Linked DNA regions of Homo sapiens. The protein of the gene in region 1 interacts with the protein of each later gene in a pairwise test. Each region holds a gene or a part of one and is shown in the gene's direction. Other genes may lie near its edges. The genes, in order: SCAMP1, TASOR2, THAP4 and TTPA.

The links.
Region 2: the proteins of SCAMP1 (region 1) and TASOR2 interact in binary tests that used the Homo sapiens proteins (3 or more experiments, as listed by UniProt).
Region 3: the proteins of SCAMP1 (region 1) and THAP4 interact in binary tests that used the Homo sapiens proteins (3 or more experiments, as listed by UniProt).
Region 4: the proteins of SCAMP1 (region 1) and TTPA interact in binary tests that used the Homo sapiens proteins (3 or more experiments, as listed by UniProt).

Annotation. Positions count from the first base shown.
Region 1 is NC_000005.10:78,412,576-78,419,616, forward strand, and holds part of SCAMP1 (secretory carrier-associated membrane protein 1), read left to right. Parts: intron 1-2,944; coding exon 2,945-3,043; intron 3,044-3,965; coding exon 3,966-4,074; intron 4,075-6,199; coding exon 6,200-6,328; intron 6,329-7,041. UniProt on the Homo sapiens protein: Functions in post-Golgi recycling pathways. Acts as a recycling carrier to the cell surface.
Region 2 is NC_000010.11:5,757,797-5,764,240, forward strand, and holds the end of TASOR2 (protein TASOR 2), read left to right. Parts: intron 1-1,090; coding exon 1,091-1,196; intron 1,197-3,493; coding exon 3,494-3,675; intron 3,676-4,735; coding exon 4,736-4,850; intron 4,851-5,232; coding exon 5,233-5,236; 3' UTR 5,237-5,944; downstream 5,945-6,444.
Region 3 is NC_000002.12:241,606,150-241,613,190, reverse strand, and holds part of THAP4 (peroxynitrite isomerase THAP4), read left to right. Parts: intron 1-6,717; coding exon 6,718-6,877; intron 6,878-7,041. UniProt on the Homo sapiens protein: Heme-binding protein able to scavenge peroxynitrite and to protect free L-tyrosine against peroxynitrite-mediated nitration, by acting as a peroxynitrite isomerase that converts peroxynitrite to nitrate.
Region 4 is NC_000008.11:63,058,987-63,062,093, reverse strand, and holds the end of TTPA (alpha-tocopherol transfer protein), read left to right. Parts: coding exon of another isoform or gene 1-103; exon of another isoform or gene 104-668; coding exon 669-842; 3' UTR 843-2,606; downstream 2,607-3,107.

The DNA of each region.
Region 1 (7,041 bases):
AAATTCCAATTTTGGTATTGTCAGAGTTTGTTTTTCTATCTCATGGTTTTGAAATGATATATGATTGTTTTTGCACTTCTTGATTACTAGTGCTGTTACACCTCTTTTCACATGTTTATTGACCTCTTTCTATTGCTTGTTCAGATCTTTTGCTAGTTTTTCGATTAGTTTGTATTTTCATGGATTTGTAACAATTCTTTATATATTCTGGGTAGCAATTTTCTGTTATATGCATTACAACTATCTTTTCCTAGTCCATGATTTGACTTTTTACTTTTTGTAAATTTCAGTGTAATTAAATTCGTCAATTTTGTGTGGTGTGTGTTTTCCATTCTTAATTTGACAGATACTTACTGAGCATCTACTGTTTCAGGGACTATTTTGGGTACTTGGGATAGGTCATAAACAAAATACACAGTATTTCTAGAGTTCATATTCTAGAAGCTCAAGAAATATTCATAAAAATATTCACATGTATTTTTCCCTGAAAGTGTTTAAGTTTTGCTTTTTCAGTTTTAGATCATGAATTTACCTCGAATTAATCTTTGTATATGATGCGAAGTAAGAAATGTTTTTTTTTCCTATATGAGTAACCAGTTATCCAGGCACCGTTTATTGATTAACACATTGTTTCTTCACTGTTTTGTAGTGACACCTCTGTTAGATATCAAGTTTCTGCATTTGTGTGGGTTTGTTTCTGTGTCTGTTTTGTTTATTGGTACACTTCTCTGTCCTTGCATCTGTATTACACTCTTAATTACTGTGGTTCTATAATAAGCCTTGATATCATAGGTCTTCCTACTTTGTTTTTCTTCAAAATGGTTTGACCTGTTTTTAGTTCCTGCCTTTTTTTTTTTTTTGAGATAGACTCTCACTCTGTAGCCCAAGTTGGAGTGCAGTGGCATAATCTGGGCTCACTGCAACCTCTGCCTCCCAGGCTCAAGCGATTCTCATGCCTCAGCCTCTCCAGTAGCTGGGACTACAGGTGCACACCACCATGCCTGTCTAATTTTTTGTATTTTAGTAGAGACGAGGTTTCACCATGTTGCCCAGGGTGGTCTCGAACTCCTGAGCTCAGGCGATCTGCCCACCTTGGCCTCCCAAAGTGCTGGGATTACAAGTGTGAGCCTCTGCACCCAGCCGGTTCTTGCCTTTTGTATATGCATTTTAGAATCAGCTGAACTACAGTTATATCTTTGGTTATGCGTGGCTTCCTTTTCAGGGCTGCTGTTAGCTGTGTCAGAGTAAAATCCTGCTATATATTGGTGGTGTCTTCTGGTTTTAATAGTTCTTAAGATCCTTGAACGTCCTTGTGCAGCTTCTTTCTTTTTTATATTTTTCTTATTTATGACCTCCCCCTTCCCTCCCTCTTCTCTTTCTTTCCTTTCTTCTTTTCTTTTCTGTTACTGTTTTTGCTTCTATTGTTCTTTTCATGTTCCCATCCTTGTTTTTTGTTTTTTTCTTATGGTCATTCTAAAGAGTACTTTAAAAATATATTTTTATTAAAGTAGTATATGGTGCATGTGTCGAGGGAAGCAAATAATACAGAGGCATATAAAACAACAGGTGCAAGTCCGTCTGATATCAGGTGGCCGAGACTTCCCAGATATTTTATGGGGGCATGTATAAATCTGTGTCTGTTGAAAAAAAGGTCATATACAGACTGTTCTGTAGCTTGCTTTATTTTTTAATTTAATTTTTATTTTATTATTATTATTATTTTTTGAGATGGAGTCTTGCTCTGTCTCCCAGGCTGGAGTGCAGTGGTGCGATCTTAGCTCACTGCAACCTCCGCCTCCCGGGTTCAAGCGATTCTTCTGCCTCAGCCTCCCAAGTAGCTGGGACTGCAGGCGCCCGCCGCCACACCTGGCTAATTTTTGTATTTTTAGGAGAGATGGGGTTTCACCATATTGGCCAGGCTGGTCTCGAACTCCTGACTTTGTGATCCACTTGCCTCGGCCTCCCAAAGTACTGGGATCACAAGCATAGGACACTGCGCCCGGCCAGCTTGCTTTATTTTATTTAGTATTTTAAAAGACATTCTTCTATCGCTAATTTATTCTCATGGCTGCATTGTATGTATATACAGTAATTTAACCAATCCCCCATTGATGGACTTGTAGATGTCTACTTCCTGATCTTGCAGCTTTCAGACACTACTGATCCTCACTGGCAAAGTGGAAGTTGGGTAATTTATTTTCTCTCTCCTTACGCCTTCCCTTTTACTCTTTTAAATTTAGTGGGGTTCTACCAAGAACTTTCCTGTATACTCTTCAGAGCACTGGCATGTAGCTTTCTCAAGAGGGAAGAGTTGGCAGTAAACCTTGGTGTAGTTCTTTTGTCTGGTTCTATCTGTATTTTACTATTAAACTCAAAAGTTCTTTTTTTTTTTTTTTGAGATGGAGTCTTGCTCTGTTGCCCAGGCTGGAGTGCAGTGGTACAGTCTTGGCTCACTGCAGCCTCCACCTCCCCGGTTCAAGTGATTCTCCTGCCTCAGCCTCCCAAGTAGCTGGGATTACAGGTGCCCGCCACCACACCCGGCTAATTTTTGTATTTTTAGTAGAGACGGGGTTTCACCATATTGGCCAGGCTGGTCTTGAACTCCTGACTTAGGTGATCTACACGCCTTGGCCTCCCAAAGTGCTGGGATTACAGGCATGAGCCACCATGCCTGGCCTCTATTAACATACGGTATCCTGGAGGAGAGTGTTTGTCATATAGTGTTATAAGTAGCAGTCTGATTGTAGAGTTGAAAAATGAATGAGTTGGAGAAAATGGAGATGGAGAATTTAAGCAGCTCTTTGCCACACACTTGACTATGAGAGAGCAGGGAATGAAGAGATGCAGATTTTGGGATTTTTCATTTTATTGGTGTTATACTTTTTGAAAGAAGTTAAAGTTGGATCTCTGTGTTACATAATTTTCCTTCTCTTAATCCTCCTAGCCTCCACCAGGCGGTGTGAAGATGCCTAATGTACCCAATACACAACCAGCAATAATGAAACCAACAGAGGAACATCCAGCTTATACACAGATTGCAAAGGTTAGTTCATGTTAGTTGTATAAATTCATATTGGCCATTATAATATCAATAACATTTGCTTTCAGAGCAAAATAAATCTTTATATGGTTACATTTCTGTTGCTTAATTTTTAACTCACTTTCAAGTCTGGATTTGCTGTCTTGTCACCCTTCAAATACTCATTCCTCTTTTTGTCAGCTTATACCATTTGCTTTATTCCATTATTAGGAATTATTGAATTTATGTATCATCTCAGTGGATAAATTTTTATTGCCTTTGGTCCCACTTTTTAATGCACACTACCATTAAGGTAAAAATGATGGAATAATAGATATTATTGGGAGAGCGTTGCAATGGTAAAATAACAGTGTTAGGAGGTAGAAGATGGCAAAAATCTGAGAAGAAAGGAGATTAATAAGATGCCTGATAGCATGTAAGGGCAAATTGAGTTATAAAGAATTTCTTAATCACATCTTTTGACCTCATTCTCCTATAACATTTAAGATATTAGAAAATATTCTTGCATTGGTGGCCTTATATATCATTTAATCTGATTAATAGGAGCCAATTCAGTTGCCCTTTTTTCTATTGTTCATTTTCCTCAACTGTTCCCATTGCCTCTGTTCTTCACTCATTTAGGCATAGAGGTCATCTTAATTTCATTTTCCAGATTACCTAAAGATTGTGACTACTTTTACTAAGAGAAGTTTTCCTCTCCTAATGGACCCAACATTCCCACTGAGAGTTTCTGGAACCCAAAGACCAAATGGACCAAATATCCTCATAATATTTTCTGTAACTATGATCTTCAGTAAATTCCTGTACTTTGGAAGTGTGTTTGAATTAGGTTTCTCTCATAGTAGAGAAGTAGGAGTTAGCATATAAATGTTAAAGTATTTTATACTTCTGACAGTCTATTCACATATTGATATTTTTTATTTAGGAACATGCATTGGCCCAAGCTGAACTTCTTAAGCGCCAGGAAGAACTAGAAAGAAAAGCCGCAGAATTAGATCGTCGGGAACGAGAAATGCAAAACCTCAGTCAACATGGTAGTATCCAAAGAAATTTGAAATAAAAATAACTTTTAAATACTTTACATTATGTCTATACTAGCTCCTAGGTCATTTGGCCTGTGGATAAAACCCTACCCTGTTTTCCTGTTCTAACAAGGAGATCAGACACAGCAGATTGCCTGTTTGATACTCTGTAGCCTTCTAATCTTGGCTGATTTGCATAGTCTTTTGTTGATAGCTTAGAACAGTGTTAGCCTCATCACACAGAAAATGAATGTGAATATGATAATTTTTGCTTACTCTGAGGCCAGGAGCCTTTGATTCTGCAGTTAGGCCCTCCTTGGTTCTGTGGACTCTTTATGAGTACATTTGCATGTACCCTACATTTGACTTTTACCTGATTTATTCAGGTTAATTTCAGATTATCTGCCCCAGTCCTCGCAAGTATTTTGTCAAATCATGTTAGAAAAATTGGAAGCCTAAGGTATTCATATGATGCCAAAGAAATAAGTGGTGAATTGTTGCAGTGAATTCTATTAAGTTTGTGCCTGCCAAAGCACTTCAAAGGAGTCTCTTAGGGAAAGCTAGCAGTCTCTGAGTAAGAAGAGATAAAAGAGCTAGATAAGTCATTGTTAGGATGTCTGGGATAGTGATGCAATGCAAAGCTAGAACAATAACAATATACAGAACTATTTCTTTTTAACTTAGAATGTGTAAGTCTAGGGCCTCATGAGAACACATTTATCCTGGGTCATTTTCTTGCTTGCAGCATCAGAGGTAGCATCTATAGAAGGAGAAACTAAAAGTTGAACTGGGACCAATGTTTCTGAAGTACCTGTAACTAAAATCCATCCTATTTCTTTAGCACTGGCAAATACAAACTATTTCTATGAGAGTTATGTTAGTAAAGACAGTAACAAAGAGTAGGAAATTAACAATTAGACTGCAGTATGTTAGCACATTTTAGTACTTTTCCCCTCTTAACTCATACTTAAATCATCAATACAATCCTGTGAGGGGTGATAGAGTTTTTATTCTCATTTTACAGATATGGAAACTAAGGCTCGGAGGAGAGAGTAAGTTGCCCAAGGCGACCTTGCCAGTAAGTGGCTAGCCACTTCTGGTTCCAGAGCCTCTCTTCTTTACGAGTATTCACTGCCGCTTCTCAAATAGTATGAGATTGGTATGAGAAATGAACTATATGAAATTTGAATAGTATGATAAATGGAACACAGGAGACTCATTGGGGAGAATCAGAAATAGGTTATTGTTCTTTCTATAAAAATTACCCTGGTCTGGGAAAAGTAGGTAAAATTGAATTTTTAAAAACTGTGGGATATAACATCTAAAATCGGGAAATGGCCTTAGGTGCTGTTTTTACCCGCTATTTTCATGTTTTGACTTCTTTATTTTAATTTTTTATTTCCCCCACCATTTCTCAAGTCTTATTTTTAATCTGGTTTCTTTATGTAGACACATTTTTTTCCCTTTACAGTTTGAATTTGTTTTTCTCTGCATTTTTAAAGGTTCTATAATTCTTCAGCTTCCTTATCATGACTGTTTCATGTTTTCTTTGTTGTAGGGTTTTCGTACATGTATCTTTTGGATATTATTTTTTCCCAGATTTTGAGTATTCTAAATTTGATTCTTTGGTATTGGTTTAATCTTGGACTTAACAGAAAACTTGAAAAAATTAGAAGCTAGTCTTTCTCCACTTGAGATAGGAATTATAACAGAATTATATTTGAAGATTTAAGATGCTGAGGAGAAAATTGAAGTTTAAAAACTGGATGGCCCTTTCATGCCAGCCAGACTCTTTGGACTGTGAAATAAATCTGTTTTAGGGTAGAAGCACTGGATATGTGCTTTCTTTTTGTTTCTTGTTTTTTCTGTACATAAATGGTTCCTGCTAAACATGGTATGATATGACACTGGAAAATTATTTTACTATCTAATGTGCTCTAAGGTGATGATATTCTGAGAAAATTTTTTAAAAATCTAAAGCTTGTCTTTCAGAGTTCTAGGAATACAAAGATATAGTTCTACAGTTTTTCTGAACTTTTGTTAACATAATAGAGTTTTTCTTTATTATGAAACAAAAAATAATATCACATTTGTTATAATATAAATAACCTTTTCTTTTTCTAAAAAAAATTTACAGGTAGAAAAAATAATTGGCCACCTCTTCCTAGCAATTTTCCTGTCGGACCTTGTTTCTATCAGGATTTTTCTGTAGACATTCCTGTAGAATTCCAAAAGACAGTAAAGCTTATGTACTACTTGTGGATGTGTGAGTATACAACAATTTACATCTTTGCTTAGAATTTGTATTTTTGTTGTCAAAATCCGCATTTTTATTTCAAGGATAGTATAGCAAACCAGTCTTCTTTTTCTATAGATAAAGCTTAATAATCATGATTTCAGAGTGAAACATATCCTATTTAGGTACTTCAGAATTGTACTATATGTGACAATGTAAGTCCTTGGCTGAGAAAAACTTGTATGTTGAGAACTGGCATTCTTTTGAGGAAAAGACAACTTCTCTGTCATGTGGGTAAAATTTTATAAGATTCTTTTTCCTTGAAAGATGTTATCTAGACATGATTTGCTTGGAAAAAATAGTGCATACTAATTTTATGCAGAGGAAGGCCATTTAAAAGAATTCTGTTAAATGTAGGCGTTTTAGCTATTTTTAAAAGGGCATAAAATTATTACATAAACTAAGTGTTCTTTTTATAGCTTTGAGTACAGTTTACTTTTTGTTTTCAATTGCGATACTTTTATTATTGAAAGTGCTTAATTAATACAGGACATTTTGTTGAACGGAACATTAGAATATACGTTTGGGGCTCTGATGCTTACATCACTTTGAGTATAATAACTCATGGAATACTGAAACAAAATGTCAAGCCGTTAACAGTTTTACTCTGTGTGCACAGACCTCCCACTTACTCTCTGTTTCATTTTTATTCCAAACAGTAGTCTCAGCCTCATTTTGATACC
Region 2 (6,444 bases), on another chromosome or scaffold:
GGCATAATTTCTGCTGTCTGCTGTGCTCTTTTCATACAGTGATTCTCTTATAGCAATGCTTTTCACCTCTTTTAACTGATTCTTACCACCACACTTGCTTCTGAGTTCCCTCCCTCTCGGTAGTGCAGCTAAGCTCCTAGTAACACAAATTCAGGATTTTATTATATTTAGTCTCTTCACTTGCCAAGTCAGAGCAGCTCCATATTAAATTGTTTGCTTAAAGTCAACCTTCTCCATTTCTGATGTCAACACCCCTACCATCTTGATGTCACAAAAATCTAAAAAATGGCTACTAAGTCAGCTTATTTAATCATCTACTTGAAAACTCATACTTTACTTCTCTCAGGGCACTTTTATGTATAAAACCTGCCCCGGCTCTGATCACATTGGAAGTGATACCACTTCTAGATCAAAAGCAGCATGTACCTTAACCAGTGTGACTTCTACACAGAACCTGGGATTTTAAATATTTGTAGGCACACGTCTGTAATCCCAACACTTTGGGAGGCCAAGGCAGGAGGATCCCTGGAGATCAGGAGTTCAAGACCAGCCTGGGCAACATAGTGAGATCCCATCTCTACAAAAAATAAAAATACTAGCCAGCTGTGGTAGTGTGTGCCTGTAGTCCCAGCTAAGGAGACTAAGGATGGAGGATTACTTGAGCCCAGGAGGTTGAGGCTATAGTGAGCTGAGATCATGCCACCACACTCCAGCCTGGGTGACAGCCGAAACCCTGTCTCAAAAAAAAAGGATTCTGTATTTAGAAACTTCATTTCTCTACTGCATCGGGGCCTCCTGCTTCTCTTCTGTCACACAATTTGTACACAGAACTCTAGTTGCTGGTGACCACTCCACTGTGTTCGTGTCTACAGAGTTATCTCCCACCATAGTGTGAGCAGGTGGGACCAGGCTGAGGGGCTTGTGAGAGCAGGATGCTGCCCAACCACATAAGTGACAGTGATGGTGTGTACTCAACCATGGGTCTTAGTCTGTTTTTTTCTTGTTTTACAAATAATTATCACTGGGCTTGGCATGAGCCAAAAGTACCTTAAACTTGTCATCTTCTTTTGCTACATTTATTGTTTTGTAGTTCAACTGAAGGAAATTATCAAAATCCTGGAAAAACTAAATGGAAATGGAAGATGGAAGTGGTTGCTTCACTACAGGGAAAATAAAAAGCTAAAAGAAGATGAAAGGTAAGGACTTGCTGTGTGTATGGTTCCTCCTGCCCTGCTGGGGTAGCAGAGAAACGCCTCATGTTCCATGGGCTCTAGCCTAGTGCTGCAGTGGAATGGCCTTCATCAGTAAAGAGCATGAGGGCTGCTGGCTCTGTATTCAATGAAGGAAGCTATGTGCTGTGACCGTAGCCAACAGTATGAGGCATGTACTTATCTAGACTAACAGAAGTAAGGGAGTCAAACTTAGCAGTCATGAAATGTCCATATTCTATTTAAGCCCTACTACTACAAACTTTAAAAAATATATGGAACTTGTACCATTAATGCTTTTTTGGATACTTATAAGTTGCCACCACTTTAAGGAGAATGGAAAAATTAAGACCATAATCTATCCTTAATTCAGTTGTACCCTAAAAGAAGAGGCTTATAAATACGCAAACTTCACTAAGTCTAAAGCTGTAATTTATAAAAGAAAAAAATACATGTTTGATTCCTTGGCTGAAGAGAGCTGGGGCTGAGAGATTCCTCCACATTCTCACAAGCAGGACCAATTGGAAAAGCAGACCTGACAAGCCCTTGTGAAATAAGGATTTCAGGCACTGTTAGGTGCATCCATTTTCATTCAGACTTCATCCCCAGGAGCTAGATAGCAAATCCTCACTTTTATAATGCAGAACTGAAGCAGAGTAGATAACAAACATGACCAAGGTCAAACAAGTAGTAAGTTATGAAGCTGGGTTTCAATCCCAGAAAGACGAAACGACTGTTAGCTGTATGTGACCTTTGAGGAACAGAATCTCAGAAAGCTTTTCTCTTGAAGTGGAGCTAGCAAAGGAGAGAAGGAGCACAGAGGTTTCCTTGGCAGGAAAGGAGGGTGCAAAGGCTTCAGCAGGTCAAGGGTATGACCATTCACAGCGGACTTCAGTAACCAGCACTTGAGGGGAAAAACGTCAACTTCGGTAAGTAGAGAAGCACATTTAAGGTTCTGATGTACCACAGCACACCTATAAAATAAGCATAAATCAATCTAGCACTTCTAGGGCTTTGGGTAGAGAAAGTCATGTCACTTAACGACGGGGATACAGCCTGAGAAACGTCATAAGACGATTTTGTCTATGTGCAGACATAGAGTGTACTTACACAAACTGATATGGTAGAGCCTACTCCTAGATTGCAAACCTGTACATGTGACTGTACTGAATACTGTAGGCAGATTTAATGCAATGGTGGTATCTGTGTGTCTAAACACAAAAAAGGTTCAGTAAATTACAGTAGTATAATTTTATGGGACCACCATTGTATATGTGGTCCGTCATTGACTGAAACATCATTATGTGGTACATGCCCGTACTCACTGCTGTTGGCGCTGCAGTATGCTCTTCATATTATACCACTCTGGCATTATGTAACAGGCGTTATGTATTATTGAGAACTCATTAGAAAACTCTTCATATCCTTTGACCTTTTGTGGAATTTACCCAAAATTCTAGGTGGTTATCAGTCATTGCAAAACCAACCTCAGTTCCATCTCTAGGAGGGAGATATGCAGACTACAGTTAAATATTTTAAAGTTTATACAAAATAATGCCCACCCAAAACTTACACAATAGAAGCATGTAAAAAGTTTCTATTCATAGAAAGAGGGATGGCATAAAAGTTGGTATCATGTAACTATGTTCAGTATGATGTCATAAAAAATTTATACAGGAAAAAGTGAAAGGAAATTAATTCATGATGTTAAGAGTGATTATCACTAGGGTTATGGGAATGGGTGTGATTTGGGTTTTCTCCAACAAGCATGAGAATGTAAGTGATGAAAACTAGAGAGACGGGAGTCGAGCAGAGACAGAAATGCTAAAAATTTAAACATACTGAGTTAACACATTTTCCTAGTAGTGATAGAATTTTCAGGGAAGCAAGAAACCAAGAAAATTCTGGCTGCTACCTAATTTTAATGAAGTTGGCGATTATCTGCCCACAAGGTATGAGAAGTATAGATGTGCATTGCTCTACAAATATACAACGCAATAAGGCCCACTCGAAATTCATGAAAGGCTTGCCAAGCCACATGGCTTGATTGGTCGTAGGTAGATGCATGATGTCCCTCTTAGAATGAGGCCCATGTTTAAAATCCACATTTACAAAAGGAGTAGGTACAATTGTGATGTTTTGAGGTAACCAAAGTGTGTCATGAAAAAGAACGTCAAGAAGAAAGGCAGAGGAACTCATGAGTTTGAATGGTTAAACTGAAGGCAAGAAAAAGTCCTAAGAATAAAACTGAAAAATATTTTAATATGCCTATGTATCTTTCACAGAGTGGATTCAACTGCACATAAGAAGAACATAATGTTGAAGTCATTTCAGAGTGCAAATATCATTGAATTGCTTCATTATCACCAGTGTGACTCTCGATCATCAACAAAAGCAGAAATTCTGAAATGTTTGCTAAACCTGCAAATTCAGCATATTGATGCCAGGTTTGCTGTCCTCCTAACAGGTAATTCACAGGCGCATTTTACTCAGTTAATGCCAAAATTGGTCAGCTCTAGGAATGTCAAAGTTAGATACCTGATGAAGAGTATCAGGTATCTAAATGGCTTGGCATCCCATGGATACCAGAATCACCCAAATCTGCTGAAGCTGAAGCCCTTATATAAAATGTAGTATTTGCAGGTAACTACACAATCCTCCTATGTATGTAAGTCAGTTCTAGATTACTTATAATACTCAATACAGTATAAGTAGTTATACCGTATTATTTTTTAAATCAATACTGGGGCTGGGTGCAGTGGCTCACACCTGTAATCCCAGCACTTTGGGAGGCCGAGGCGGGCGGATCACTTGAGGTCAGGAGTTAGAGACCAGCCTAGCCAACATGGTGAAACCCCATCTCTACTAAAAATACAAAAATTAGTCAGGTGTGGTGGTTCATGCCAGTAGTCCCAGCTACTTGGGAGGCCGAGGCAGGAGAATGGCTTGAACCCCGGAGGCAGAGGTTGCTTTTAAAAAATTTGTGGGGCAGCCAGGGACAGTGGCTCACGCCTGTAATGCCAGCACTTTGGGAGGCTGAAGCAGGTGGATCACTGAGCCCAGGAATTTGAGGCCAGCCTGGGCAACTTAGCGAGACCTCATCTCTACAGAAGTTGGCAGGTGTGGTGATGTGTGCCTATAGTCCTAGCTACTTGGGTTAAGGCAGAAGGATTGCTCGAGGCTGCAGTGAGCCGTCATCACACCACTGCACTGTAACCTGGGTGGCAGAACAAGACCCTATCTATCTTTAAAAAAAAAAAAAAAAAAGTGTTAAGAAAAATTTACGTAAAGAACCATAGTTATCATTTTTCAGGGATTTTTTTTCAGTACTTTAACCACCACCCCCGATGGAGGCATCTATTTCCAAAGCTTCAAATCTTTTCTTAATTTGGAACCCAACACCTTTTCTCCCCCTACCCCTCACACGAGGAAGTTCCACAGATTTTTTAAAATAAAAAACCAGGTCCTGTTATATAAAAGTACATTAATTATATTAACCAAAAGTTGTTTTTTTTTTTTTTTAACAGACAAGCCTACTATCCCCAGAGAAGTCTTTGAAAATAGTGGAATCCTTGTTACAGATGTAAATAACTTTATAGAAAACATAGAAAAAATAGCAGCTCCATTTAGGAGTAGCTATTGGTAAGAACACTTTTTATGTAACTTTCCCATGTGAGTTGGAGTTGTTGATGGCAAATATTGACATTTGTGTCTAAGGGAAACAGTTGGGAAACTGTTGTTTACATACTTCATGCTATAAATTTAAAGTGTTTGTTTAGGGGTGGAATTGCTATTTGGCATAAATAGGAATTCCTAAATTATCACTAAATGAAGTAACCATCTACTAAAATTACCTATTTTATCTAATGTGCATTTTCACTTGCTGTTAACTTGGATCGTCAGTACAGAACATAATGTAACCTTAGAATGCATAGGCGTTTTCCCCATTAGAGCATCCCGCTTATAAAATATTTCTTGTTCGTATTATTTTAAGAAGTTCTTTATCAATTTTGTGTTTCTTCAGGTGACTCAACTACAGCCTGCCTGGATATGGATGATGCCAATAAAAAATTAGTATTTTCCCTTTGGAAAACTTGTGAACATGTGAATACACATGTGAACAGTCTTACATTTGAAAAACCAATGTTCTACAACTTGGAAAGTTTTCATTTTTTATATTTTGCTGAAATATGTCACAGTGGCATTGCAGTTGTCTGTTAGCTTTGGGTTGCAGTGCTAGATATTGTTTTAAATTATTTTCATTTTAAACAAGATGCCTTCTAAGCTATTGAGCTTATTAAAAATAATTTTACATGTTTACTTAGTTGGAGCAAAAATAAGTCTATTTTAACAAATAGCTTTGTTTTTGCATGCTAATGTCAGAAAGGCATACGATGCACATTATGCTCTGTTTTAAAGGTTTTACCACCCTTGTAAAAACTATAATCTTAAATGGTTTTATTTGCTGTTACACAAACAACACTACATAAAACATTTTTTCCTAAATGGTACAAATTTATAAACTATCATTTTTCACTTACGGTATTTGTAAATACTACACTACAAAAATCAGCTTTCTGAGAAAGAAATAATCATTTATTTATGATATTGAAAATTTCTACAGTAAACACTCAAAACCAAGCAAAAAACATTTGTAAGATACACGGTATCTATTTGGAGCAACGGTTTTTGTAACTAATGTGTTTCATTTTTTAAATAAAGACAACTAAAAATAATCTCTTTCTGCAATGATTTTTATAGCAGAAATTGACTTATCTGGAGTGTTCTAGCAATTTTTAGGTCATTTAGCAGAACAGTAAGCTTCCAGAGGAAACCTACACTTCTATCCTTTGGGCCTGGCCTGTTCTGTTTCTGGGTTCTTTCCGCAGTCAAGTACACCGAGTAACAGGTTAAAGAATGGCAGTTTCACCTGGCCTTTACAGGGACACTTACTTCTTTCAGAAGTCATTAAGTCGGCTTTTATTATTCCTAAACAAAAGAGCTTTATTTTCTCATGAGTAGGTTTTAGAGTTTTAATTGTTGACAATTTTTCAGTTACTAATAGAACCCCAGTCATTTCATTTTATTTTTCCAAGGACAAGAGTCTATTAAGGGAACCATTAACTATTCAGTACAGTGAATTACTTTCAGATTACTAAGGAAAAGGAAAGTGAGCAGTTATAAGATGCCAAACACCTATCTATCTGCCTGAAATATGCACCTTTCAGGTTGGACC
Region 3 (7,041 bases), on another chromosome or scaffold:
TCCTCAGGGAGAAGACATAGAAACAAAGCTCCTTGGGTGCCAAGGGTTGAAAACTCCATTCCTGCACTGTCGAAAAGGTCTAGAGAGTGAGTCTCTTATGTAGTTTAATATTTTCTAATAGCTACATTAAAAAGGTAAAAAGAAACAAGTGAAATCGATTTTAATAATATATTTTATTTAACCCGATATTATCTAAAAATTATTTCAACAGGCAACCACCCATACTATAAGATTATTGAATTATTTGAAGACTTTTTGGACTGAGTTTTCGGAATCTAGTTTGTAGCTCGCACTCACTGCACGTGTCAGTGAGCCAGCTCACGCGCCTGCAATCTGGAAGGATCGCTGTGGCCAGCCGTAGCATCCTTGCCACTCACCTTCCCTCCTCATGCGCCTTCTACGTGTGACTCTAGCGTCTTCTGCCACAGAACGCAGCTGTGGAGAAACACTGACCCACGTTCTGTCTCTGTAGATGTGTGTGTTCTGCACCTTTCACAGAAATGGAATTGCAGAATATGTGCTCTTTTGAGCCTGATTGCTTTCATATGGTGTGTTGTCAAGGGCCATTTGAATTGCAGCTTATATTAGTGCTTCATTTTTATGGCCAAATAACATTCCATTGTCTGGATATACTGCAGTTTGTTTACTCATTGGTTGACGGACATCTGTGTTGTTTCCACTTTGGGGCTGTTGGGAATGGTGCTGCTGTAAACATTCATGGGCAGCGTCCTGTGGGGACAGGTGTGTCATTTCTGCTGGGAGTGCATGTCTCCAGGAGTGGCAGTCCTGGGCCACTGCTCCACACTTAACCTCTCAGGCACATGCCAGATGGTCTTCACTAGGCTGTGCCAGTTCACGTCCCCATCAGCAGTGTGCCAGGCGTTCCCGTCCTTCTAACTTTGTTTCCATTTCTCTATCTTTTGTCTTTTTTTTTAACTCATTTCTGTCCTCTGTGTTCCGCTGTGTTTCCCGGTGTTTGTTTCTCCCTGTGCTGCTTCCAATCTCCACTTCATTTGGGTGGTGGCTTGATTTTTTTTCTTTTACTTTCTCGACTTCTGCCAGGTCATGTTTCACCTTCTCCTCTTTCCTTGCCGTTTCTCTCCTGAGTTCTTACATGTTTAGTTAGTGGTCTTTCTTCATGGAGCAGCTTCATTCAACTACTCGGGAGGCTGAGGCGGGAGAATCACTTGAGCCCCAGTGGTCTAGGCCGCAGTGAACCGTATTCATGCCACTGCACTCCAGCCTGGGTGACTGAGCAAGACCCTTTCTCTTAGTTTCACCTTTGCCCCATCAACATTTTGCAGTTTGTATGTTTTGCTGCTCTTGTTCACACTTGGTGTCTTGTCACCTTTTGTCCATCTCTGAACTCAGGCAGTGTCTTAGAGTCCATTAGTCCATTGCTGGAGAAGCAGAAGGTCTTCAGGAGCAGCATGCCTTTCTTTCTTAATTTTTTTTTTTTTTTTTTTGGAGACAGAGTCTCACCCTGTCACCCAGGCTGGAGTGCAGTGGCACAATCTCGGCTCACTGCAACCTGTGCCTCCGGGGTTCATGCCATTCTCCTGCCTCAGCCTCCCTAGTAGCTGGTACTACAGGCACCCGCCACCACGCCCGGCTAGTTTTTTATATTTTTAGTAGAGATGGGATTTCACCATGTTGGCCAGGCTGGTCTCGAACTCCTGACCTCAGATGATCCACCCGCCTTGGCCTCCCAAAGTGCTGGGATTATAGGCGTGAGCCACTGCGTCCAGCCGGCAGCACCCCTTTCTTTCGGAGTGGCGCATTACTTCTCTATGGCGGGTGGTGGGTAACCCTGCATGGAGGCCAGCCTGGGCCTTCAGCACCTGGGCGAACACCTGGGGTGTCCTGGGCAGACGCGTGGGGTGCCCTGGGCCTGCTGTTTGCAGGAGCTCCCTGTGGCAGAGCGGGGGCCAGAAGAGCCTCCAGGCTTCCCAAGTCCAGGGCTCCCCACTCCGCCCCAGGCCTCTGAGCCAGGCCAGACCCTGAGGCTTCTCAGGGGCCACCCCCCCAGCTCCCAGAGGCCCCTCCTGTCCTCCAGCGAGGCACTGACCCACCACTTCTCACAGCATCCGTATGTGTGTTTTGGTGGCTGTGGGTTGTATCTGTGACCTATTTTCCCTCAAAATCAAGTTCAGGGAAAAGGTTTTTTCGTTATTTTTGTTTTTTTTAATTCTTGGGAGGGAAGGTGATAATATTGTTACTTACCTGAGAGTCCCCCTCGGAGACCCCCAGAAGCTGGTTTTAAGGGAAGAAAGAGTAAGATCCCTTTCTGTGTCTCTGTCTCTGGCCCCGTCTCTGGCCCCATCCCCGTGTCTCTCTGGCCCTGTCTCTCTGTCTCTGTGTCTCTGTCCCCGTCCCGTCTCTCGCTGTCCCTGGCTCTGTCCGTCTTTCTTCCCCATTTAAGGAGCGCCTCCTCTCCGGTCCCCTCTGAGGAGCGCTGGATGGAGGACAGGGCCTCCCGGAGAGGACTCCACGGTGGGTGGTGGGAGGGAAAGACCAGGGGGAGGCAGAGGCTGCCGGTGAGAGGCGTCTGCCAAGTAGATGAGGGGCCGGGAGAAGACCCCGTGGCTGGGGAAGCAGGAGTGGGGAGGGCGGGGCCTCCGGGCCGAGGGGCGCGGTCGCTGTGGTCTGTGGAGGGGCTGGCGAGGCTCCCGCCTCTGCTCTTGCTGGAGCTCTTGAGTGAGCCCTGTGACGCCTGCTAGGTGAGGTGGCAGCCAGTGAGCGCGCCCCACCGCCCAGCGCCGCCCAGCCTCCGCCCTGACTCCTCTGCCGCTCCCCAAACAGGGCGCGGTGGCGTGACCCTGGCGCTGGGGGGCGAGCGCGGCCCTCCCGGTCCCGCAGGCGCAAGAGAGGGCGGAGATGCGGCGCCTGAGGCGGGGCTGCGCTTCCGGGGCGGGGCCGGCGGAGGCTGGAGGGGGCCGCCCGGGAGCAGAGGCAGGACTTGCGGCGCGTGCCCCTCACCCTAGCCCGGGGCTGTCCTGCCTCGTGGGGAGTGTGAAGGCCATGCCCGGCGCCGCGGCCCTGGTGCCCCTGTTCCACTGGGACCCTGGGGGGCGCCGCCAGGCCCCTTGGCCTCTTCCTCGGGGCCCTCGGGACCCAGGGGCCGGTGGTGGCCGTGCCGGGGACTCGGGCGTGAGGGGTGGAGATCGCGGCCCCGGTGCAGCAGCTCAGAACCTGGACTCTGGATCGCTGCTCCCCAGCGCCCGGGGTGCCGCTTCCCACAGGGTTCAGCTCCCATGCAGGCTGCGCTCACCAGTGGAAGTGGGTCCACCCGGTCCCAGGAGAGCCAGAGCCCCGTGGCAGTCGCTGTGGGGTGTGCTCCGCACAGGCCAGAGAGCCGGCCCAAAAACCTGAGGTTTGCAAAGCCTCTTTCTTTCTTTTTTTTTTTTTGAGAAAACGTCTCTGTCGCCCAGGCTGGAGAGCAGTGACACGACCTCGGCTCACTGCAACCTCCGCCTCCCGGGTTCAAGCAATTCTTGTACCTCAGCCTCCCGAGTAACTGGGATTACAGGCGTGTGCCACCACGCCCGGCTAATTTTTGTATTTTTAATAGAGACAGCGTTTCACCACGTTGGCCACGCTGGTCTCAAACTCCTGACCTGAGGTGATCTGCCCGTCTCGGCATCCCAAAGTGCTGGGATTACAGGTTCAGTGAGCCATTGCGCCCGGCCCAAAGCCTCTTTCTTTTCAGTGCTGAGCTGGATAAAGTCTACCAAACTGAAAGGTCTCCAAGGCTATAGCTGGCTGTCTGAGAAATTATGGTGTTTGTTTAGCCCATCTTAGGACTTGGGCTATCCCAGGTGACTGAGTTTTGCTGTTTCACACCTCCCAAGGTTCTTCTCATTCTTCCTTTTCTCCATTAATGGTAACTTGTCTTCTCAATTGCTCAGGCCAGAAACCTCCGTTACCATCTTTTCTTACGTGTTTCACATCCAAACCATCAGCACATCCGGGTGGCTCTGCCTTCAAGATAGATCCAGAAGCTAGGTCCTTTCCACTGCCTCCACCACGGCCACCTGGCCCAGGCCACCCTCCTCTGCCACAAGGGTTTTTGCCATTGCCCTCCCTGGCTTCCTGTGGTTGCAGTCAGAGACCTCGTCCCTCCCACTCAGCCTTCTCGAGGGCTTCTGTCTGCTCAGAGTCAAGGTCACGGCCCTTCCGAGGGGTGAGGATCTCCTTCCCCTGGCCACACTGGCCTCCTGTTCCTCTCCAGCAAGACCAGGCCTACGTACCCAGGACCTCCGTCTCTGGCACTTCCACCTGGTCTGCTCTTCTCCAGGGTAGCTGCAGGGACCCTGATCCCCTGCCTGGTCTGTGCACACTTCTCAGGGAGGGTGTCCTTGTCCCTTTTGGGTAGGTTTTCACAGTGCCCCAACAGCCCTGTCTCCCTTTCTGCCTCATCTCCTAATGTACATTCAGTTCTGCATCATTCACTCATTTCTTGTGTATTGTCTGCCCTCGCTAGGATGTATGCTCCGTAGGGATGTATGACTGTTCCGTCAGCTTCTCCCTGGAAGAGTGTCCAGCACGTTGAATGATGAAAGAATTGATCAGCTATGATAGATCACAAGCCTCGTTCCAGAGGCCACACATTGGATTCAGAAGCTTCTATTCCTTATCTCCGTGAAAGATTGCAACGAAAATCTTGATTTAAAAATTCTCTTATTGTCTAATTAGGAAAGTTTTATTGAAGTCCAAATATTCCCATCCTCACCTTCCCACTTTTCACCGGGAGTCTGAGGAGGAAATACTGATATAAAAAATTTTTAAATCATCATTTAAGAAAAACAAAAAAGGAAATACTGAAAGACCACAGGCCAGTCTGGAAAAGGAGCGGACTCTCCCACTCTCCTGCTTCAGGTCACCTATGTTTGCCCTGTGCAGCCAGCAGGCAGAGTGCTCATTACCTGCTCTCCACCCTCGGTTCTCACTCTGGGCCCCAGGGCTCGGCCACTGGGCCAGGCCACATGTGCGGCCCTCCTTGGTTCCAAGCTGTTCTTGGACGTGGTCTCCTCCACCCCCAGAGCCTTTGCTTTCCTTTCCCCCGATCTTCTTTTCCCAGACTTCCTGGAATTTATAATCCAAAGGTTGTGTAATTTCAGAAGCTGCGATGGTTCCAAGAACTCCTGTCCCCGTCAGTCCGTCTTCTGCTTGCGCGGGCCTGGAGGAGACACTGGGGGTCAGTCCTGATCCCGTCCCCATCAGTCTGTCTTCTGCTTTTGCGGGCCTGGAGGAGACGCCGGGGGTCAGTCCTGATCCTGTCCCCGTCAGCTGTCTTCTGCTTGCGCGGGCCTGGAGGAGACACTGGGGGTCAGTCCAATCCTGTCCCCATCAGTCCGTCTTCTGCTTGCGCGGGCCTGGAGGAGACACTGGGCATCAGTCCGATCCTGTCCCCGTCAGTCCGTCTTCTGCTTGCGCGGGCCTGGAGGAGACACTGGGGGTCAGTCCTGATCCTGTCCCCGTCAGTCCGTCTTCTGCTTGCGCGGGCCTGGAGGAGACGCCGGGGGTCAGTCCTGATGTGCAGGCCGGTCTCTGTGCTTGGGCATCTTTGGGCTCCGTAGATGAGGCTTGTGCGGCCACAGAGCTGCTTCTGTCCCTGCTGCTGCTCCTGGGTGTCAGTGTCCGTTCTGTCAATTGAAGCACTGAGACTTGAGGGTTAAGCAGGCCTGGGAAGCAGGTCTTTGGGATTGCCTCTGGGGATCAGTCCTTCTCTTCCAGCGCCCCTGATGGGTAGCATGCAGTGGGGCTTTCCTGTGGTCCCCGCACAGGTCTCCCTTAGAAAATGAGTAAGAGCAGGGCCCGTGCATCCAGCCAGGGTGAGGGTCATGTGAGTGAATCCTGAAAAGCCGCTCGGGAGCACCCAGTCCTTGCTGAGCGAGGCAGGAAGCAGGGGTCCCTTTGAGTTCGCCCAGCAGAACAGCCAACCCAGCGGCCCCTCCCTGCTGTCCTGTCACTGCACCCCCACCTCTGAGTTCCAGGCCTGTGGTGTCATCCTTCACACTTAGTGGGATGAGAGACTGAACCCCACAGGAGACCTTCTAAAGGGGTCTCCTGGCCACTACACAGGCTGCTGTGAAGCCCCAGCCCCTCCTCAGGGAAGCGGGGTCTTACTTCCCTTTTAAACCCCGCCTGCCCCTGGGCCCTCACACTCTGGCTGCTCCGAGACCCTGCATCCCCTTTCATTTTCTCCCTGATGCTCTTTGTCTCCTTCACACACTCTTCACGCCAGGGCACCGTGCCTCCCGTGTGAGCTGCTTTCAGCCTTGCTGTAGGACATGGAGGACCCCTGAGCTATTTGGGGTCACAAGGAAGCTGTTAGTATGTGGTTCTCATATTCTTAACTGTACAAGAAAGCAAAAGCCCCTTGAGGTCCCTCAGTATCCCTTCCCACCACCTGCACCCCACAGGTGGAGAAATTGCCTGCTTTTAGGGAGATAGCAGTGTAGGCCTCTTTGCTTGCGCCCTGCCTGGCCCCTGTTGGATCTCTTTTCTCTGCAGGAACTGCAGAGGCTTCTGAAGCTGGATCTTTCACTATGACATTTACAGTTGCTTGACCATTTTCTCCCGCTCTTGACAGGTCCCCCAGGATTAGCTGTGGCCACCAGAAGCAAGCGTCGATATGGAACGTGCATTCTGCTTAAAGCTCAGCAAGGCATGGTTGGAGGGAGGCCACTGATAGTCTCATTCTTTTGTCCTCAGAGCCCCCCAAGATGAACCCAGTGGTGGAGCCACTGTCCTGGATGCTGGGCACCTGGCTGTCGGACCCACCTGGAGCCGGGACCTACCCCACACTGCAGCCCTTCCAGTACCTGGAGGAGGTTCACATCTCCCACGTGGGCCAGCCCATGCTGAACTTCTCGTAAGTTGTCTCCCTCCACCCCACCCTGCTTGACTCATGGGCCGCCTAGGTCTCTGAAAATAATTCCAGACTGATCAAAGACAAAGGCCAAGCAGGAAGGTGTAAAAGGAACTTGTCCATCTATTTCAGAAAGGTGTCCTCTTGCCTGAATGTGCAACTGAGAC
Region 4 (3,107 bases), on another chromosome or scaffold:
CCCACCAAGTATCTGGGACTACAGTCCTGCACCACCACGCCCAGCTAATTTTTGTATTTTTTTTGTACCAGCCATGTTGCCCAGGCTGGTGTTGAACTCCTGAGCTCAAGTAATCCACCTGCCTTGGCCTCTCAAAGTGTTGGGATTACAGGCATGAGCCACTGCACCCGGCTGTCTCTTAACTTTATACTAACTAACAGTATCCATCGACTGTACCATATAAATTGTTTCTCATAGATTTAATTGTGTGCTCAGATATATGCTTCTACTTAATATGAATTAGTACCAGCTAGTACATTTTTATCGTGTATAGAATAGTCCCAAGGTATTAGTTTGGTAAGAATCACTTGCACATAAGGGAATAGAATTTATAAAATAACTTTATTTAATCTTTAAAAATTTACTTATGAAAGAGGAAAATAACTTTTTATAAATTTTATGCAGTTATAAGAATGCAAATCCAAGAAACAGTAAGGTTATTAGATCCACAGTAATACAACCTAAACATAAGTAAAATTATTAGATTCATAACCAGAGGAATAAAGGATGTGGTATCTATTTATACACTCCATTTTAGAAGTTATTAGAATACCTTGTTTTATGAGGTTGATTTTCCACTGGAAATGCATCTAATGCGGTTTCCTTCTAAAGTGTTTTGGCTATTTCAGATTCACATGCATGGGAACAACTACAAACAAAGCTTGCTTCAGCATTTCCCAGACATTCTTCCTCTGGAATATGGTGGTGAAGAATTCTCCATGGAGGACATTTGTCAGGAATGGACAAATTTTATAATGAAGTCTGAAGATTATCTCAGCAGCATTTCTGAGAGCATTCAATGAGAAGTTATGTCATGTGAATGGCTTCCTAACTAAAAATACATGAGTGATATCCAACCTGGTTAAATGAATGAAAGAAAAGGAGCAAATCTTTTAAACTAATGCTTGCCTGAACTTTAAAAATGTAGAAATCTTCTGACATGAGCAACACAGGTGTTTGGAAAGATTTTTTACTTTTTAAATGCTTTTTTCTCTACTTTTGAAGTAATTAAATGTCAGTACATTTTAAGAGCATAAAAATCGGCGATTTTGTACTTGAAGAGAACATGAAAGTTATTGCTAAAGTAGCTGCTCATGTGCATCTTTGTATGTTTCTAGAAAGTTATATTTTAAACAAGTTCTCTGATTAAATTGGTTTAGAAAAAAATTTAGAAATATTCCGCTTAAAAATACTAGCACAAGTCAGCTAATGATAAAAAAATTAACACTTGTTTTAAGTGGATGTCAGATTAAATTATAATTCATTATAATTAAAATCTGAATAGAGTTTTATGGTTATTCCTGTGGACCAGCAAGACATTTCATCTCAGGGAAATTTTATTTTAGTATATTAACACGATAGAAACTTTTTTTTTTTTTTTCAGACAGAGTCTTGCTCTGTCGCCCAGGCTAGAGTGCAGTAGTGAGATCTCAGCTCACTGCAACCTCTGCTAGGATTACATGTGCACACCACCACTCCTGGCTAAGTTTTGTATTTTATATAGAGATGGGGTTTTGCCACGTTGGCCAAGCTGGTCTCAAACTCCTGAACTCAAGTAATTTGCCTGCTTCGGCCTCCCAGAGTCCTGGGATTACAGTCGTGAGCCATCGCGCCTGGCCGTGATAGAAACTTTCAGCTGAGGAGTCTATATGCCATACTACTCTATGTGGCATCTTTAGGTCTCTGTGAAATCATGTTGATGTAATTGATTAACAAAAATAATTTAGAAAATACGTCAGGCACAGTTGATGGCTTCTCAATATCTGCTTTGCATTTTTAAACAAATCAAGAATGTAATTTTAACTTTTGCTTATGGTCATTCTTATGACTACACGGAAAGGGATGGAATCATACTTACTTGTCTTATACATGGACTGTTTTTAGTTAACAATAACGTAACTACACAAAGGAAAGGAAATGTTTACATTTTAAAAAATTACTGTCAATTACATCTGGTATTTTTCAGATTATGCATAAAATAATATGAGTTTGACTATTGTATCAGAATATTTTAATCAAATCCTGCAATTTATATTAACTTAAAAAAACATCTGGTAAAGACTGGGTGTGGCAGCTCACACCTGTAATCCCAGCACTTTGGGAGGCCGAGGCTGGATGGATGATTGCTTGAGCGCAGGAGTTCTAGACCAGCCTGGGCAATACAGGGAGACCCTGTCTCTATTTCAAAAATAAATAAATAGGCCCCGGTGTGTGATGTTCCCCTTCCTGTGTCCATGTGTTCTCAAAAAAAATTAAAAAATAAAAATAAAAATAAATAAATAAATAACCGGTAAAGATGTACTGTTTCTACTGCAGTTTATAATATTTCATTTATTAAGAAAGATATCATCTCAGCTTTCAAATTCAACATAGCCCTCAATTTATGACATAAGTTTTATACTTAGTATTTTATAATTTCTTAATTTTGTTATAAACTTGAAAATGTAGAATATGGGGTCCAAAATCTGTTGAACATTTGTTCAGCTAGTTAGGTTTCAACATTAATCATATACATTAATAGTATCTTTATGTAAGGATATGTGAAGGGTGTTTTTCTTTATAAGAAAATTAGTTTAATCAGGTGAGCTGATACTTAGGATTATACATATATCTATGATAAAATTGAAAGTAATTGTGGTTGTTCTTTAGAGAACGTGTTTTGATTTTGACTTAGTATTGGGAAGCTAACAACATTATAATTTTTATTAAAAAACTGGACCCTGGGCCGGGCGCGGTGGCTCACGCCTGTAATCCCAGCACTTTGGGAGGCCGAGGCGGGCGGATCACGAGGTCAGGAGATCGAGACCATCCCGGCTAAAACGGTGAAACCCCGTCTCTACTAAAAATACAAAAAAATTAGCCGGGCGTAGTGGCGGGCGCCTGTAGTCCCAGCTACTTGGGAGGCTGAGGCAGGAGAATGGCGTGAACCCGGGAGGCGGAGCTTGCAGTGAGCCGAGATCCCGCCACTGCACTCCAGCCTGGGTGACAGAGCGAGACTCCGTCTCAAAAAAAAAAAAAAAAAAAAAAAAAAAAACTGGACCCTGCCTGTTTTCTAAAAAACACTTTAA